Homo sapiens: one gene and its partners. Changing the gene in region 4 together with the main gene of any one other region gives a genetic interaction. Each region holds a gene or a part of one and is shown on either strand. Other genes may lie near its edges.

Region 1 (4,332 bases), on a different chromosome or scaffold from region 4:
TGGATCTCACAGATAGAATTCTACCTAGGCTTCAAGCTAGAGAAAAATGTAAGCCACAGCTGTTGAACTTCCCACCTTATACCAGAAATCAGATAGTCACTATTTTGCAAGATCGACTTAATCAGGTCAGTGCCAACTATTTTGCCAAATTATGTGTTCCTTGGATCACCTGTGCTAGGAAAATTTAACAATAGTTCTAAAATATTTTTGCCTTGATTGCTTTATTAATGGAGCAAGGAGTTCCTATGGACCATAGTGAGAACATTTTTATGTGAATTTCAGCTTCATTCATTTACTGGGTGTCTCAGTGTTGAAATAAAAGCAGGAGTTAGAGGAATCACCCAAGCGCTTTTTTTTTTTTTTTTAGATGAGTTTTGCTCTTATCGCCCAGGCTGGAGTGCAATGGCGTGATCTCGGCTCTCTACAGCCTCTGCCTCACGGGTTCAAGCGATTCTCCTGCCTCAGCCTCCCCAGTAGCTAGGACTACAGGCACCTGCCACCACGCCCAGCTAATTGTTGTATTTTTAGTAGAGCTGGGGTTTCACCGTCTTGGCCAGGCTGGTCTCGAACTCCTAACCTCAGGTGATATGCCTGTCTCGGCCTCTCAAAGTGCTGGGATTACAGGCATGAGCCATCGCACCCAGCCTCAAGTGCTTTCTTTAATGACCTTTAAAAAATAGGGCCTATGAAAAAACTTTTTCTGTTGAAAATGACTAAATAGATTTTTTATTTTTGCTAATTTCAGTTCTGATTGCTTTTTTCCATTTATGAACTTCTACTGCATCCGTACAAAAAGCTTAAATGTGTGAAAACTCTCAAACGTCTCCATTATTTATGAGAAGAAAAGGCATCTTTTTAACCCTAAAGAGTTGCCAATCAAGTTTAGGGTTAAATGTGAAAATATTTATGCTTGGGACCTAAATTACAGAGGGAGAATCTTATGGTTCAAACTGTCATCTTCTATGTCTTGTCTGAAGGTATCTAGAGATCAGGTTCTGGACAATGCTGCAGTTCAATTCTGTGCCCGCAAAGTCTCTGCTGTTTCAGGAGATGTTCGCAAAGCACTGGATGTTTGCAGGTGAGTTACGGCTCTGTTGCATTCTTTTATTAAAAAAAAAAAAAAAGAAATGCTGTTAATTGTCTCATGTAACTCAAGTGAATGTGGCTTAAGAGGCTCTGTTCTGCTACTTTTTTACGCTCAGAAAGGAGGACTTGTTTCTCAGTGGGGAGCTCTGGATTTCCACCGTGTTAATGTCTGAAACATTATCAGTCCATTACCTACAGAGGGAGAAACAAATGAGATGTTGCTGGCACTCCCTGTGGTGATTATAGATTGGTTAATTACATTTGTATTAAAAAAGACTCCAGTTTACTTTTCCATTAGCTGGTCTCAAGCAGGTTTATTTATGGACCTGAACCGTCTTTGCCTTTAGACTTGTTCCCCTTCCTTTCCTTTTGTGAGCACCCCTTCTTCCCTTCAGTTGGTGGTCCCCCACAGTTGTACTCCAGACCTCTTTCTCCCTTCCCATCCTCCTGCCCCTCCTGCTGGGGAAAGCCTCTGTGCCGACTGATGAAATTTCTTCCTTCCCAGTAGGGACACTGGGTCCATTAAAATGATACTTGCTGTGCTGGCCTGCTGGTCCAACCTCCCCCTATTGCTATGCAGAAGACCCAGGTCTGGCTTATGGCTTCCTGTGGGCAAGTACTTTGGAGAGAGCAGTGGGAGAGTAAGCTCTTCCTATTGCTAGATTGCATGATCCTGAATTTGAAAGTTTCCCCTAATCAGCAAACTACTTGGGTAAAGACTGCAACTATGAGCAATAGTCATGTAGGCTAGCGTGGTTTAGCCTACACATATCCTATGTATATATAACTGAAGATATCCCTTTTAGGTTTGGTGTGTATGGGTGATGCTGACTCCCTTTAGTCAGTCACCCACACTACATATCCTCTCTCCTACCCATGACATTTTCTCCTCATCCAAAATGTTATCATTGGCTTAATGTATGATGACCTACTTGGCATCCATTAGGAGGAAACCATTGAAGTTTCTCAAATCTGATGTCCATGAATTATTTCAAAGCAATTAAGTCCCCTTATCTGAGAAATAACCCAGTTTTGTTTGGGGGCTTTAAAATTATAAAACATCATAATTTTAAAGTTACACGTAGGATATGTGTAGGCTAAACCATGTTAGCCTACATGACCATTGTTCATAGTTGCAGTCTTTGAGCAATGGTCATTAATGTGCCGCTTTTGAGGCTGGTGGTTTGGTGTGTTTGGTTTGGCTCAGACTAAATTAATTTTAGAAATTTTTTTTATAGGAGAGCTATTGAAATTGTAGAGTCAGATGTCAAAAGCCAGACTATTCTCAAACCACTGTCTGAATGTAAGTAGTTTATCTCCTTCCTGTCTTCCTTTGTAACTAGAAGCTTAGCTTTTCTGAGGAAAGAGGTAGAAAGATGAAATGAACATAGTTAAATCCAAACTCACCCATTTTTATGTGTGTCTGTGTTTTTAGTCCGTTTCGTCTACTTTATTTCAATCTTGCCTGCCAGTACTATAGTTCGTGCATTACTGGAAATGAGTTCCCAGGGTATTGATTGCGTAAATGGCTGGGACAGAGTAAGTTTTTTTTCCAAGCTCTGGAAATGAAACTTGTAGACAATGAGGTTGGATCAGCTCTCTGGGTGCTTATGTTGCGTGCACTTTAGGTCTCAATATAGGTGAAAGCAAAGCCTGATAAATAAGGGAGAATTGGGTAAAAGAATTGTGAAGCCAGGTGCGGTGGTTCACACCTGTAATCCCAGCACTTTGGGAGGCCAAGGCGGGAGGATCGCTTGAGCCCAGGATTGTGAGACCAGCCTGGGCAATATAGTGAGACCTTGTTTCTACAAAAAATTTTAAAAATTTTGCAGCCATTAAAAATATGAGTTCATATCCTTTTTAGGGACATGGATTAAGCTGGAAACCATCATTCTCAGCAAAGTAACACAGGAACAGAAAACCAAACACCACATGTTCTCACTCATAAGTGGGAGTTGAACAATGAGAACACATGGACACAGGGAGGGGAACATCACACACCGGAGGCTGTTGGGGGTGGAGGCCAAAGGGAGGGAGAGCATGCAGGACTTAAAACCTAGATGACAGGTTGATGAGTGCAGCAAGCCACCATGGCACATGTATACCTATGTAACAAACCTGCATGTTCTGCACATGTATCCCAGAACTTAAAAAAAATTAGGCAAGCATGGTGTGTGCCTGTAGTCCTAGCTACTTGGCAGGCTGAGGCAGGAGAATCACTTGAGCTGGAGAGGCAGAAGTTGCAGTGAGCCGAGATGGTGCCACTGCACTGCCAGCCTGGGCAACAGAGCGAGACCCTGTCCCAAAAGAATAATAATAAGAAGAATTATAAGTTCAACTTGGGATATCTCAAGCTTTTAAACAAGTCTAGAGGGTAGAGGTAAAAAGATCATACTGCTACAGTAAGCTGCATGGTATCACAAATGACAAAATTAATATTCCATTCCCTCAGCCTTGTTTTGGTTGTGGCAAATGTAAAATGGCCATGAACTACGTATCTTACAGTATTTGATATCCAGTGTTAGTCTTTATAAACAGAATAGTAAGATTTGATTGTTTCTTTTTCACTCCTACACTGGCTGGGAGTTTAAGTAAAATTGTTTCTGGCATTATAGTTCTGCATGAAATTCTTTCTTTTTTTCATCAATTTGCTAAAATAAAATAATTAAAAATGTTTCAGAAGTAGCCAAAAATAGTGCTTAGGCTAATAGTAGGCAATATATACCAATGTATAGACTTAGATACTGGTTTCTTCCTCCTTTTCAACTTTTCAGATTATCCCCTTTTCCTCCTCCTTTTTCCCCATCAGTAACATTTAGGCTTGTCACTGGCCCCTGTGAGCACCACTAACACAAACATAATTCAAAAAGGTAAAGAGGTTGTAAGTTCTATCTTTTGACTTCTGGTTTGTGCGGGATTGGCTTTTTTCTTTCTTTTTTTTTTTTCTTTTTGTGTAAAACAAGGTCTTGCTTTGTCTCCCAGGCTGGAGTCCAGTGGTGCAATTATGGCTGGTGCGATCATGGCTCACTGCAGCTGCAACCTCCCAGGCCCAAGCAGTCCTCTCACCTCAGCCTCCCCAGCTCCAGCTACTGCTAATTTTAAAATTTTTGTAGAGTCAGTGGGTGGAGGAGTCTCCTTATGTTGCCCAGGCTGGTCTCAAACTCCTGGGATAAAGTGATTCTCCTGCCTCAGCCTCCCACAGCTTTGGAATTACAGGCATGAGCCACCATACCAGGTTGAGATTGG
Region 2 (4,918 bases), on a different chromosome or scaffold from region 4:
ATTGTTGGCTCCCTCGTAGAGCTACTGACAGCACTAAGTCAGCTGAAACCAGGAAAGGGCTTTGAACAGCGCCTGCCCCGCAGTAGACACTTAGGGGCTTTACTGTCGTCATTCTCCCTCCTCTCACCTCCTCACTCACTCCTGGGCCCTCTTCCGGATCCAGCCCCAAATACGGGGAAGGGCTGAACACCGCCGGCCTGGCGTGGGTGGAGGGGGACAGCCAGGCCCCAAGGCTTGGCAGCCGCCTCGGGCTCAGAGGTCAGCTCCTGCTCCCTGGACACAGCTGGTGGGGTTGGGGCCTGTCCTACCTGCCCCACCTAAGCTTCTAGGACCTCCCGCAGCCCCAGCCCTGAGCCAGGCGGCCTATCCTCAGCCTGGAAGGAAAGGTTCAGCCTCGAGGCCATTGTCCAGATGAGAAAAGGCCTGGGAGGTGGGTGGGGACAGGCAGACGGCCCCTGAGAGTAGGGGCAGGGCTAAGCTTTGTTCAGACGCTGTTCTCTGCGGGGGGAGGTCCTTCCCCCATCTCCGTAAAGCTCCAATCCAACCCCAGAACAGTCCCAAATGCCACCTCCTGGGGATCCCGTCTCTTTCTTTGGCTAAGAAAGAATCCCCTGTGCTGTGACACAGAGCCTTTTGCGTTGGGTCCTGAAAGATGTGTAGGAGTTCCCCAGGGGCTGGGGGTGAGGAAAGAATTCCTGACTACAAAGCCAAGGCAAAAGCACGGCGGTGGGAGGTGCTCTGACAGAGCGGGGAACAGACGAAATGGAGTTCTGTGAAATTGGTAAAATATAAACTTGGCAATCACTTGACCAATGGTGTAGATGGGGAAACTGAGGCGCAGAGGGGCCAGGGAGTTGTTCCAGTCAGAGCTGTCTTGGCTTTCGGAACAGGGCTGCCCCATTACATGAGTGGGCACGTCGCTCGCTCTCTGGGAGGAGGAAAAAGTCTCCTCCAAGCCCGGGAACGTGCGCCAATCCCCCTCCAAAGCGCTTCCCCAGCCGCCCGCGCTGGAGCCCCGGCTCATGGACTACAAGTCCCGGCAGGCCCCGCGCCGCGGCGCATGCTAGGCGGGCGTCCCTTCGCGAGCCCGGCCGAGCCCGGGGGCCCAGTTCACCATTGTCTGGCCAACAGGGGCGGGGCGGGCGGCACGGCGGGCTCGCTCACTGGTCGGGCGGCGCGTCCGTCGCGCCCGGCGCCCACCCCCGTGCAGGCCCGGCCCCGCGCGCCCGCGCCCGGGCCGCCTGGCGCCCCGCCCGCGCCTTAGGACCCGCGGGGCCGCGCGGCGCATCCTGCGGGCGGCGGCGGCGGGCGAGGCGCCTGCAGCCGGGCGCAAGATGATGAAGTTTCGGTTCCGGCGGCAGGGCGCCGACCCGCAGCGCGAGAAGCTCAAGCAGGAGCTTTTCGCCTTCAACAAGGTGCGGCGGCGGCCCGGGCCCGGGCTCGGGCGGGAGGGGGCGGGACGGGGGCCTGGGCTGGGGGCCCGGGGTCGGAGCCACGTCGGGCCCGGGGGGCGGGGGCTGGCATGCAGCGCGGCGCGGGGCGGGGCCGGGCCGGGCCGCGCACCCCCTCGGCGGGCCCCGCTCTGGCTCGGACTCTGGGTGGGTCTGGGTCTCCGGCCGACTTTCCGTGTCTGCTCCCCGAGTCTCTGCGGGCCGCTCTGGCCCTGGCTCTGCCAGTCTGTGTGTGTGGGGGTCTGTCTCTGAGACTCTTTGCCTGTCTCTGGGTCTCTGTCCCTCTTTCTCCGCCGCTGACCGGCTGTCTCGCCCCAGTTGTGCCTGTGTGTGTGGTGGGGGTGTCTCTGCCTCTGCCCCTTCCTATCTCTGCCTGTCTCCCTTTATCTCTCTGCCTCTCATTTCTCTTGCTGCCTGTGCGTCTCTGAGTCTTCTTTGCCTGTCTCTCCCTGCGTGTCTCTCTCTCTGTCTCTGTGGAGTCTCTCGACCTCTGTCGCTCACTTCTGTCTCTTTATCCTTTTTCTTAGGGGCTCCATTGCGTCCCTGCTCGGCCCTTGGGACAGCCCTGGGGCCCGGTTTGTTTTGTGCTTTGGCACCCAGGAGGGTGAGAGAGTTAGTGGGGGCGAGGCAGCTGTGGGGGGTGCGGCTGGGAAATCCCTTCAAGGAGCCTCTCCTTCCTTCCCCCACTGCTCCAGGCTCTGCCTTGCCCTGCTCTGCCCTGCCCGGGGCTCCGAGTCCAGGGGACATGCCTGGCTGTGTACTACACTGCACTTCGCATCGTGGGGCCTCAGTTTCCCTAGCTGTGAAATGAGGCTACTTTTCTCCATACTGTGGGCCCTGGCTCCCTCTGCCACATGGGCCAGCTGTCCTGCCTTTCTGCACCAAGGTGGAGTGAGGTGGAGGCTTTTCCTTCCTTTCCCGGAGTGGGACACTAGGGGCCAGGGAAAGGGGCCGCCTCAGCCCCCGCCTCCCTCTGCACTGATGTTAGAGCAGGGCCTCAGCCCACTCCTGGCTCACTGCTCTGGGGACGTTGGTTTTGTCCTCATTCTTACCCCAGAGCCCACTGATGGCAGAGCCTCTCAGTGCTCTTCGAAATTAGAGTTATCTTCAAAATACAGGTGAGAAAATTGAGGTTCTGAGAGGGGTGACGGCTTGCCCGGAGTCAGAGTGAGCTGCACCAATATCTTTCTTGAGTTCTTGTGTCAGTGGGGTTGGATTTTAGCCTTGAGGGGCAGGGATTTTTCCAAGGGGCTGCTGTGGTCCTGGGCCAGTGTTGTGCCAGGCGCCCTGGGCTGCCTTGAGGAGACACTTGTCTTGGAGGAGGCTCTGGGACGGCTGGACCTGGAGTAGTGGAGGCACTGGGATGTCTCAGGGTTTCCCTGCCTAGGTCTGCAGTGATTGCCGATGAGAGCTGCCAGGACCCTCACACGGTGGCTGAGAACCTGCTAGGAACCTGAGAGGGGCCCAGAAGGGAAGCTGGTGCTCCGTGGTCCCCAGATGGCACCTATTTTCTGTGCCGGGGAGGCTGTGAGGGTGAGGTGAGAGGAGAATGGCCCTTCAGGGAAAGGCAGCAACAGGCACAGGGCTAAATGTCACTTTTTTTTTTTTGAAATGGGGTCTCACTCTCACCCAGGCTGGAGTGCAGTGGCACAATCACAGTCCACTGCAGCCTCACAACTCCCTGGCTCAGGTGATCCTCCCATCTCAGCCTCCTGAAGCTGGGACTACAGGCTCGTGTCACCATGCCCGGCTAGTTTTTGTATTTTTTGTAGAGATGGGGTTTCACCATGTTGCCCAGGCTGGTCTCGAACTCCTGGGTTCAAGCTATCTATCCATCCATGTTGGCTTCCCAAAGTGCTAGGATTACAGACATGAGCTGCCATGCCTGGCCTAAATGTCATTTCTTCAGCCAGTGAATTGGGGTGTGCAGTGGGGGCTGGAGACAGATGGGGGTGAAGCTCAGCCCACTCTGGCTAGCCTTGGGGTGGCGGAAAGTAAGGGCCCTCCGCTGAGGATGAAGCGTGGGCAGCAGTGGTGGAAAGTGGGGTGGTCTTGGGGAAGGGACTTAGTCACCTAAGTGGGTAATAGGTGATCGCTAGGGAATAGGCCCCTGATTCCTGAGCTTAGGGGGTGGGAGACAGGTCAGGAGTGAGCAGGGACTTTGGACTCTGAGTCTTGGGTTCAAATCCCAGTCCAGCCCACACATCGCCTGTGGAATGTGCCTTCTCTGTTAATACTGAGCCCCACTGTGTGTGAGGTCTCCAAGGTGCTGGGGACAACAGTAGTTACCAAAAAGGACAAATACCTGTTAACTCAGGTGGCTGATATAGTTGTGCAGGAGACAGTGAAAAGCCAAAACAAAAAAGTAAAATAGACTGTAGTTGGGATGGTAGCCAGTGCTGTGGATCAAATAAAGTAGGGCGAGGGGGTGAGAGGTGTGGCCAGGGCGGCTGCTGCAGCCAGGGTGGCCTTGGGAGGCTTCTCTGAGGAGATTACTCCTGAGCGACAGGAAGTGCTGGAGGAAGTGCGTTCCAGGCAGAGGGGCAGTAGGTGCAAAGGCCCTGAGGCACAAGCCTCCCTTAGCTGGGAGCCCCAGGAGGATCCTGAGCAGGGGAGGGACAAGGATCTGGCTGTGGCTTTCATAGGATCCCTCTGGCCTCTGTGGGAACAGACTGTAGTGAGTACCAATCCAGGCACGTGACGGTGGGGCCTGGAGCAGGGAGGGAGGTGACTTCTGTGTGTTTTGAAACTGAGTTGATGGGGCTCAGAAATGGACTGGACGTGGGGTATGAGGGAAGCAGATGCTGGACAGTGCATGTAACCTCCTTTCCTCGTTTGTAAAATGGGAAGGCTGTGGGGATTTGCGATGCAGTGTCCCGTCTCTGGACCCTGGTTGTAGCGAGGGACTGGCTAGACAAGGTCAGGTGCAGCAAGGGCGTGGTATTATTGGTGGGAGAGAGAAGCCCCAGCCAAATCGCCAACTCTGTCCTTAGGTGGGCTTACTGTCCCAAGGGCCCAGATGAGAGACTGAAGCTTGGAGAGTACTGAGTCTTGGAGAGTACTGTGACTTGCCCAAGGCCAGACAGCTAGGCCGTGACCAAACCAGCTGCCCAGAGGGCTCAGTCCCCACCTGGATGGGCAGAGGCAGGCAGGGAGGGAGGTTCGCGTTACAGGCTGGGAACTGGGGTTTCTTACAAATGTGCATCTTCCTGAGGCAGTGGGTCAGGAATTACCAGTGGTAAAAGTGAAAAATAAATAACAACAACAAGATAAAAGGAGTTACCAGTGGCCCACGTGGGTGTCCTGCACTGGTGTTCAGGATGGGGCTGGAGCTCAGCTGTGCAGGCTTCCCAGGGAGGGCACAGCCAGGCCAAAGACAGGAGACTGGTGCAGAAAGGGTGTGCTGTGAAAGGGGCAGGGGAGCGGGTGGGGAGCTGTTTCATCGACACTCTGGGCACACAGACCCC
Region 3 (4,332 bases), on a different chromosome or scaffold from region 4:
TTTTAAAAATAATACTGTGCTGGCCAAGCAAAACATGGACAGCTGGCTACATTCACTCTGTGGACCCCCTGGTGGTCAGACTCCAGTTTAAAGTGGTGATCAGCCCTGCACGGTTGCATGCGCCTGTAATCCCAGCAACTCCGGAGGCTGAGGCGGGAGGATTGCTTGAGGCCAGGAGTTCAAGACCTCATGTCAAATTTAAAAAAAGAAAAACAATTAAGTAGAAACTAAAAAGTGATGATCAATTTAAACAGAACTGTATGATCACCAAAAGACTCTGTCGAGTTTCATCCCTTATATCCTACAAAACTCCTGAGTTGTGCAGTTGAGAAGAGACTGGGGATCAGATCATGGGGCTTAGCTCCAGCCAAGAACAGGATCTCAGGACACCATGCCAAGGCAGGGGCAGCCAAGGCTGAAAACTGGGGGCGAAAAATCGGAGTTCTCCCTCACCGATCTCCATTTTAGGGAAACTCAATGGATATTACTTTGATGAGTACACAGTGCCACATAAGTGAGGTCATTATTTTAAGAGGATACTGTCTTCCCAAAAATTTAGAATTTTTATCCAGAAGATAGCTTATTCTATGTGAATACACTGTGAATGAGGAAAGAGAGGTCCGGAAAGTTTAAAGGAATTGCCACGATTACCCAAACTGAACCTAAAATCAAAGAGTGTGTCTTTTTCTCTGTGCAATTGCAAAGCACCAAAAGACAGGTGAAGAGATTTCATTCAAGGTGTCAAACATGTGTGATTAAACACTCTACCAAACAGAAGTTACATGTAAATTGAATCTACATTTACTCAGCATTATCCTCCTTCCTCATTAGAAAAGTCACCCACATGTTTGCCCCACATCACTGTTGTAAAATCTCTTTATCCCCTAACAGAAGCATTAAAAGCAGGTTAAGTATTTCCACCCCTCCTTCCGGATCAGGCTGTAGAGAAGAAAGGCAAATCAGCAAATGGGGCCAGGCACGGTGGCTCATGCCTGTAATCCTAGCACTTTGGGAAGCCGAGGCAGGCGGATCATGAGGTCAGGAGTTCAGGCGGATCACAAGGTCAGGAGTTTGAGACCAGCCTGACCAATATGTTGAAACCCTGTCTCTACTAAAAATAGAAAAATTAGCTGGGCATGGTGGCGGGTACCTGTAATCCCAGCTACTTGGGAGGCTGAGGCAGGAGAATTGTTTGAACACAGGAGGCGGAGGTTGCAGTGAGCCAAGATTGCACCACTGTACTCCAGCCTGGGCAACAGTGCAAGACTACGTCTCAAAAAAAAAAAAAAAAGAAAGAAAAGAAAAGAAAAGAAAGGCAAATCAGCAAATGGAAACACAAGAAGGAAGCCCCAATGTGAATGTCCCCGAGTGTACGCATGATTTCTGTTGGAGGAATTCCTGGCCTGAAGAGACAGCATAAACAAAGGCCATCCAGAGGGAAACAAATGATAAGATAAGTGAAACCCAGCAACTCTCTCTGTCCTCCCCTCTACCTACTTCCCTCAACTTGTTCGTCAGAAAAACAATCTGAGCTTGACAGAATTACAATGTAAGCCTTCCTCTCCCAGCTGCCTCACAGCTCTCATTCTAAGCTAGAGGGTTAAGGGGGGAAGACATGCTTTTCTGTAAGGTCAGTGATGGGGCTCCCAAGATATGGAACTTGGCAGACTGGAGACAGCCATCTCACCCTGCCCACAGAGAAGCCAAAGGAGCAGAACTGTCAAACTGCAATGCAGGGAGTATAGAAAGAAAAGGTAAGGTATGGAAGAAACGTAACTTCAGACACAGCCTGAAAAGAAATTGGGTTAAATATAAAACTATATACATTTTTAAAAACATTTTAACCAGCCCTTAGCAGAAAATATCATAGGCAAGGCAGTTTCCTGCCACAGTTCCTAGAACTTCCATAGTTGGAAGTGTTACCTACTCACAGAATCTCAAGCCCTAAATGGGTCAGAGTATTTCCAGTTTAATCTCTATTCTTGATTTTTAAAAGACGAAAATATAATAGCAGGCCTGTTCATTTAACCTTCTGAGAACATGGTGCGGTCAGTCTCAGCCATTGGCTTCAATTCCAGCATTTATTTATTGCATGTCCTCCAACTTTTAGTTCACATTACCAACAGTGCTGAACAAAGTACCTCTAACGCAGAAATGACTGCCACACAAACAGGATGGGGAAACCAAACAGAAATGGTATTGTTGTTTCTTTTCCACCATCAGCCTAAATCAAATAGCAGCCACTAATAATGAGTTAACTGTAGTTGCATTTGAAAAAATAATTCCCGCGGTGGCTCACGCCTGTAATCCCAGCACTTTGGGAGGCTGAGTCGGGCGGATCACGAGGTCAGGAGATCGAGACCATCCAGGCTAACACGGTGAAACCCCGTCTCTACTAAAAATACAAAAAACTAGCCAGGCGTGGTGGCAGGCGCCTGTAGTCCCAGCTACCCGGGAGGCCGAGGCAGGAGAATGGCGGGAACCTGGAAGGCGGAGCTTGCAGTGAGCCGAGATCGCGCCACTGCACTCCAGCCTGGGCGACAGAGCGAGACTCCGTCTCAAAAAAGAAAAAAGAATTCCAAATGGGTTGCCTTGAACAGAAATGTATGACATTTTCCATATTCACAATTTCACCAACTTTCAAGAATAGAGAATGCAGCAAGTTTCTTCAGTTTAAGCTGTTTCATTTCCTTTAATTTCTTACAATTAGTTTTTTTGTGGGTTTTGTTTTTTTGTTTTGTTTTGTTTTGTTTTTTGAGACAGAATCTCGCTCTGTCACCCAGGCTGGAGTGCAGTGGCAGGATCTCAGCTCACTGCAAGCTCCGCCTCCCGGGTTCACGCCATTCTCCTGCCTCAGCCTCCGGAGTAGCTGGGACTACAGGCGCCCGCCACCACGCCCGGCTAATTTTTTGTAATTTTAGTAGAGATGGGGTTTCACCGTGTTAGCCAGAATGGTCTCGACTTCCTGACCTTGTGATATGCCCGCCTCGTCCTCCCAAAGTGCTGGGATTACAGGCGTGAGCCACCGCACCCGGCCCATTTCTTACAATTAATTTTGTAGTACATTCTGGGGATTTAGAAGGGTCCCTGGTCTAAACCTCTTGTTACAGAACTGCGGGTTCTAACTTGTGTCTAAACATTTCCCTGCTTGGTTTTACCAAATCTCTATGAAACTAATACAAATTTAAGCTTAGGCACATATGAACAATCTATCTCATCTGGTGAATAATGTTGACCACCATCCTTTACTCTTCTTCTTGGGCACAAATATCCAGAACTTTATCTAAGAGTAAGTCCAGAAGTAGCACCCAAACACACATTGATGGCATCTGTCATTCTGCCAAGAAAGGAAAAAGATCAAGGCTATTGGCTTTGGCAAACTTTCAAGAAGCTGCCCCTAGTCCTGACCTAATCTTCACAGGAGGACAACTGTCAGAAGCATACGGTTCCTTAGCAAGCTGCTGGCAGTCTTGCCTCTCACTTACAGGGTTTTCCTACCAGTTCGCTTTAAAATATGGCACCTTTTTTTGCCCTTAGTAGTGATAGCTGTGCACTGATATGTCCACAATGTACAGTCTAGTCCCCAAAAGCATGATTAATTTAAAAAAAAAAAAGATACAGAAAAAATCTGACTAGAATTACAGGTACAGTTTGTGGCTCCAAAACAAGGCAAAGCTAACCCATGCCCTTGACCTGGTTTGTATGTCACTAACAAACTGAGCTAGCCAACAAGCCAGAATATAAGAACCTATCTCAGAAAATAAAAGATGGGCATCTGTATTACCCCAACAATGCCCAAAGCTAGGATCTGGGCTATCTACTCTTGTAAGCCTAAATTCAGGAAGTCTATCAGATAGGCAACATTTTCCAATCACACTGCAGGTATTTTTTTTAGACATAAAAATGACAAAGACCAGTTTAATAGGTGACCTTAATTGTGTGCCAGCAGAAATACAGGTAGCCTTAAAACCCCAATCCTGGTGTAATTTATAGAACAGAATAAACCCAGGTTATTACTAAAGGTGAATGACATACTTAAAAAGTATAACAAGATGAGGCCAGGCGCGGTGGCTCACGCCTGTAATCCCAGCTCTTTGGGAGGCCGAGGCAGGCGGATCACGAGATCAGGAGATTGAGACCATCCTGGCTAACACGGTGAAACCCCATCTCTACTAAAAATACAAAAAATTAGCTGGGCGTGGTGGTGGACACCTGTAGTCCCAGCTACTCAGGAGGCTGAGGCAGGAGAATGGCGTGAACCTGGGAGGCGGAGCTTGCAGTGAGCTGAGATCGCACCACTGCACTCCAGCCTGGGCGACAGAGCAAGATTGT
Region 4 (5,174 bases):
TCCCAAGTTATATAAGTGATTTTGATTTAAGATTGGTGTCTTACAGAATTTAAGAGTGACAAACAAGTTTTATGGTACATCATAAATGCAGTGTATCCTAAATGCAATGTATTGCCTACACAATTTTTTCTTTGTAGACATTCTAGTTACATGAAATCATTGTATACATTTTATACATTTACAGATCTAAAATAGCATGCTGTTTCCTCTTGGTTTACATGAAATAATTGAGAATTTTCTAGGATTGCTTTTTGTATATTAAGTAAATTCTATGTTTGCTATTAATACTTAAATATTCGATGTAGAATCAAAGGATTGATATTTCAGAACACTGAGAAGTACATAAAATCTGGATCTAAATTTATAATTTAAATTTATAATTTAAAGCTATTGTATTAAATAAGTTTATCAGTTAAAAACTGATAAAGAGGTATTAGGATCTCCAGTGTGACTCAGGAGAGAGTTGAGGGTAAAAGAAATGGAGTTAATGAGAGAGATCAAAATATAAAAAGATAACTGATAAAAGAACTTTCATAATAAAACTGTTTCACGAAGGACCTCACAGGCATTTGTGGTTTTGTACTGTGAGACTATATGAAGTTTAAATCTGAGCCAGGTGTGGTGGTACATGCCTGCAATCCTAGCTACTTAGGAGGCAGGAGGATTGCTTGAGCTCAAGAGTTCCAGGTTACAGTAAGTTATGATCTCACGCCAGGGCACTCCAGCCTGGGTGAAAGAACAAGACCGTATCTCTAAAAAAAGTTAAATTATAAAAGAAGTATAATCTGTAAAATATTTAGTGAAATTGGCTTAGATTTGCCCAGACTTCCCCTTTGGCATTATATTTCAGGAATGAGAAAAATAATTAGCATAGCATTTAGAAGAAATGGGGGGAATTTCAAGGTTACTAAATAAATCAGGGTTAGTATAAGAGGAAGCAGAGGCTTTGAAGTCATGGCTTGCATTCTTGATTTGGATATTGGTTTTCTCTTTATAATTTTTCTGTGATGACGCCTTTTGCCACCTAACACAGGTAAATGTGAGTTAAGCCCCATATGTGTTAGTGGACTCCTGAATCTTTTGTTGGCATTTGCTTCTGTTTGCCTAAGCACATTTGTAAATGTCTAAGCTTCAAATTAAGAAGCTATGTGGTTGCTACCTGATTATATTTAGTCAATAAACTTACTTTCATATTTGTTTTAGAGCCAGACATAGGCATGCCTGAACCAGATGCTCAGAGATTCTTCCATCAACTCATGGCAGGGGTGGTAGGTATAGTTGTCTATTTCCCTTTTACTTAAAATTAGAGTGAATACATTACATTACCAAATTCTAGTGTGTTTCTCTCTGCATCCCTCTTAGGTTTATCTGCATGGTATTGGAATAACTCACAGGGATATTAAACCAGAAAATCTTCTGTTGGATGAAAGGGGTAAGTTTAGCATTTTATCACTACCTAAAATAAAATAAAATAATTACCTAAATTATTTTAATTACCTAATTATTTTAATATAGCCATACAAGGCAAAATCAAGTCTTTTTGCATTACTGGAATTTCAAGACAAGATCTGAAAAATCAAGGAAATTTTGGAGACTTCGTATATTTGGAAATCACAAGTCTCATTTTGCAATACAAGTGCGGATCAGGTAGAGAAATCTGACCTAGGTGCAAGCCTAGCTCACTATATGTATAAGAATAATTTTTTTTTTTTTGATACAGGCTCACTGTGTTGTCCAGTCTGGGGTGCACTGTATTATCACAGTTCACTGCAGCCTTGACCTCCTAGGCTCAAGCAATCCTACCATCTCAGCTTCCCGAGTAGCTAGGACCAACCACAGGCAGGTGCCACCATGCCTGGCTAATTTTTGATTTTTTGAAGAGGTGGAGTCTTCCTGTGTTGCTCAGGCTAGTCTTGAACTCCTGGACTCAAGCAGTTTACCAGCCTTAGCCTCCCAGAGTGTTGGGATTATAGACGTGAGCCACCATGCCTGGCCAAGAATAGTTTAAAATAATCCTTTAATGGATTAATAAAGGGAAGTTCCTGTGGAATACCCTGGACCTTAGTCTTGTCCTGTTCACTCTTTTTTTATGTATGACGTGGATAAAAATGTAAGAAATTTAGTTATATTTTCTGAATGTCATCAAATTGAGAAGGATGGATAGCGAAAGCTTTAAGCTTACAGGGTCAGAATCAAAAAAGAAATGTCAGCTGTATGAGGCAGTAGTTTTTGTCTGGTTTAATGCTTTATTCTTAGTATTAGAATAGTGCTTAACAAATGGTCAGCTTTTTTTTTTTTTTGAAACAGAGTCTTGCTGTGTTGCCCAGGCTGGAGTGTAGTGACATGATCTCGGCTCACTGTAACCTCTACCTCTCTGGTTCAGGTGATTCTTGTGCCTTAGGCCCCTGAGTAGCTGGGATTACAAGCCTGAGTCACCACACCTGGCTCATTTTTATATTTTTAGTAGAGATGGGGTTTTGTCATATTGGCCAGGCTGGTCTCGAGCTCCTGGCCTCAAGTGATCTGCCTCCCTTGGCCTCCCAGAGTGCTGGGATTATAGGTGTGAGCCGCTGTACCCAGCCTATACATGCTTTTTTCTTATGTGCATATGGATTTTACTTTTTACCCCTTTAAACTGAGTTTATATGACATAAAAATCTTTATTTTTATTTAAAACTTTAAAAATTCAGGTACACAAAAATTCTTATGTATTATAATGAAATGTAAATATATGTATATCAACCCACCTGGTTTAAAAATACAACATTATTCGTATATAAGAATGCTCACAGTGGTGATGTTTTTAATATAGCAGGAAACTAACCCAAATGTCTGTCAACAATAAATTATGAAATGCATGGCTTTTCAAGCCATGTCACAAGCAGTGACACAAGCATGTCACAAGCAGTGACATGGATGAATTTCAGGTATATAATGATGTAGAGCAAAAAGAGACAGTTGCAAAAGAATTCATATGGTCTGATTCTGTTTATACAAAGTTCAAAAATATGTAAAACCTAGTATATTGTTCAAGTATGTAAACATGGAGAAAAAAACATGCAGAAAAGCAAGGGTATAATAAAACCAAATTCAGAATGGTCTAAGAAAGTAGGGGAGGGAATGTATTTAAGGAAGTATTTAAAGATTTCAAAGGAAATAGAGCATTGTTTTTCTAAAGTGAGTGGGTGTTTATTACATTGTTATTCTTTATATCTTGTATTAATATACAAGATATAATTCTTTGTTTCTATTTAATATTTAGGAGTCTTTTAAAAAAAGAAATAAAATGTTACCAGTATTTAATGTCCTCCTGTTTATTTCATCACAAATATATTCTTCCTTTGTTTTTCTAAGAGCTAAACACATTCCTACATTTAAATTTTATTATGTGCAGTTCTCTAACATAGCTGAGTATTATGTTGCAGACATAACAAAGTCCAAGGAATACTATAGTTATCCATTAGTATTTTAAGTGATTACTACTCATAAGTAATTTGAAACTCAATCTCAGTGGTTTGTCCAATAGTGTCATATTTAACTACTGAAAAGATAATCAACTGGGTGCAGTAGCTCATGCCTGTAATCCCAGAGGCTGAGGTGGGACGATTGAGTGATTCTAGGAGTTTGAGACCAGCCTAGACAACATAGACCCTGTCTTTATGAAAAATTAAAAAAAAAAATTAGCTAGACATGGTGGTGCACACCTGGAGTCCCAGCTACTTGGAAGGCTGAAGCAGGAGGATTGATCACTTCAGCCTAGGAGGTCAAGGCTGCAGTAAGCTGTGATCACATCACTACACTCTAGTCTGGGCAGCAGAGTGAGACACTTTCTCAAAAAAAAAAAAAAAAAAAAAAAAAAAGGGTAATCACAGTAGCTACCTCCTAAGTCAGATAGAGGTAAACATTTCATTGGTTTACATATTGTGTGAATGTACTTGATTTTTAAAGAAATCAGTCCCCTATTTTGAGACATTTAAGTTGTTTCTAACTTATAAAATAGGACAGTGATGGCTTCTATCAATTTGTGTAAAAGGCCAATATAAAAATTGCGTCATGCTATAATATTTTTTATGCTATAATATTTTTTATGCCATTAGCCTTTTTGTCCCACTTACACACTATTTCATGTTAGTATGTATAGATATACCTTGTTGATTGTTTTCAAAACCTACCTCCACATTTTCCATTGTACAAATTTGGACATTTATTTACAAATAATATTGCTATGAATATTCTTATGTTTATGAATTTGTGGGATTATTTCTATGGATATAGAAGTGGGAATTGCTAGTTCAAAGAGTGAATGTTTCACAGTTTAGTATGTTTTGCCAAATTGCCCTCTGATAATAGAGGGCCTTTTCTAACTCTTAAGACTGGGTTACATTCCTTTGCTCTAAGATCCTATAGTGCTCTATATTTTTATAACCTTCATAACAGTTTTCTATTGTCAGTCTTCACTAATTTATCTATTACCTGCATTGGCTGGCATAGTGTCTGTCACTAAGTTACAGTAGATATTCACTAAACATAAGTTAAGTCCTGCCTGCAGTTTTTGTGTGTTGAAGATGGGAAGTTAGGGTGGAAGTTGGGTCTTCTGATATTTTTTTTTTGTACAGAGTTTGTCCTCTTTTTCTCAGACTCTCTACTTTGAAGAAAAAAATTACTGTGGTTTGTTGAATTTTGGTGTGTCTTCACATATTTTCTTCTGCCAACTGGGTTTGTTTGCTGCTGAGAAAGTTGTGCCTAACATACTACTGATGTTTCCTTCCTGCCCTCCACCCTACCTGATGAGGGGCCTTGCTTTACTTTCATCTCAGGTTTAGAGTGCTCTTTTCCAGAAGGGCAGCCCCTTCTGACTCCAGCCTCTTTCTTTAATCTGGTCCAGACTGTTCTGTGTGTTGATAATACTTCTTTTAAGTTAATAGAAGAGGTGAGGCCTTTTTCTACTTTTAGCATAGATGATGATTTATTTTATTTTTTTAAATTTCTTTTTGTCTATTTTGCTTATTTTAAGAGAAGTTCTACAAACCTTAAGTAACACCAGTGATTTTTTTTCAGTAAAACTTAATTCCTGTAAGTATATCTATTTGCAAAACATTTTTATTCAGTGTCATCTTTTTTTCTTTTGGTTTAGATAACCTCAAAATCTCAGACTTTGGCTTGGCAACAGTATT

Evidence for each region. A genetic interaction does not mean that the proteins touch.
Region 1: changes in CHEK1 (region 4) and CDC6 are lethal when combined (synthetic lethality), as found in Homo sapiens cells (one large-scale study listed by BioGRID).
Region 2: changes in CHEK1 (region 4) and LLGL1 are lethal when combined (synthetic lethality), as found in Homo sapiens cells (one large-scale study listed by BioGRID).
Region 3: changes in CHEK1 (region 4) and DAAM1 are lethal when combined (synthetic lethality), as found in Homo sapiens cells (one large-scale study listed by BioGRID).

What each region holds. Positions count from the first base shown.
Region 1 is NC_000017.11:40,294,379-40,298,710, forward strand, and holds part of CDC6 (cell division control protein 6 homolog), read left to right. Parts: coding exon 1-125; intron 126-977; coding exon 978-1,078; intron 1,079-1,202; coding exon of another isoform or gene 1,203-1,322; intron 1,323-2,324; coding exon 2,325-2,389; intron 2,390-4,332. UniProt on the Homo sapiens protein: Involved in the initiation of DNA replication. Also participates in checkpoint controls that ensure DNA replication is completed before mitosis is initiated.
Region 2 is NC_000017.11:18,224,349-18,229,266, forward strand, and holds the start of LLGL1 (lethal(2) giant larvae protein homolog 1), read left to right. Parts: upstream 1-1,286; 5' UTR 1,287-1,334; coding exon 1,335-1,415; intron 1,416-4,918. UniProt on the Homo sapiens protein: Cortical cytoskeleton protein found in a complex involved in maintaining cell polarity and epithelial integrity. Involved in the regulation of mitotic spindle orientation, proliferation, differentiation and tissue organization of neuroepithelial cells.
Region 3 is NC_000014.9:59,195,167-59,199,498, reverse strand, and holds part of DAAM1 (disheveled-associated activator of morphogenesis 1), read right to left. Parts: intron 1-4,332. UniProt on the Homo sapiens protein: Binds to disheveled (Dvl) and Rho, and mediates Wnt-induced Dvl-Rho complex formation. May play a role as a scaffolding protein to recruit Rho-GDP and Rho-GEF, thereby enhancing Rho-GTP formation. Can direct nucleation and elongation of new actin filaments.
Region 4 is NC_000011.10:125,628,029-125,633,202, forward strand, and holds part of CHEK1 (serine/threonine-protein kinase Chk1), read left to right. Parts: intron 1-1,203; coding exon 1,204-1,268; intron 1,269-1,362; coding exon 1,363-1,432; intron 1,433-5,134; coding exon 5,135-5,174. UniProt on the Homo sapiens protein: Serine/threonine-protein kinase which is required for checkpoint-mediated cell cycle arrest and activation of DNA repair in response to the presence of DNA damage or unreplicated DNA.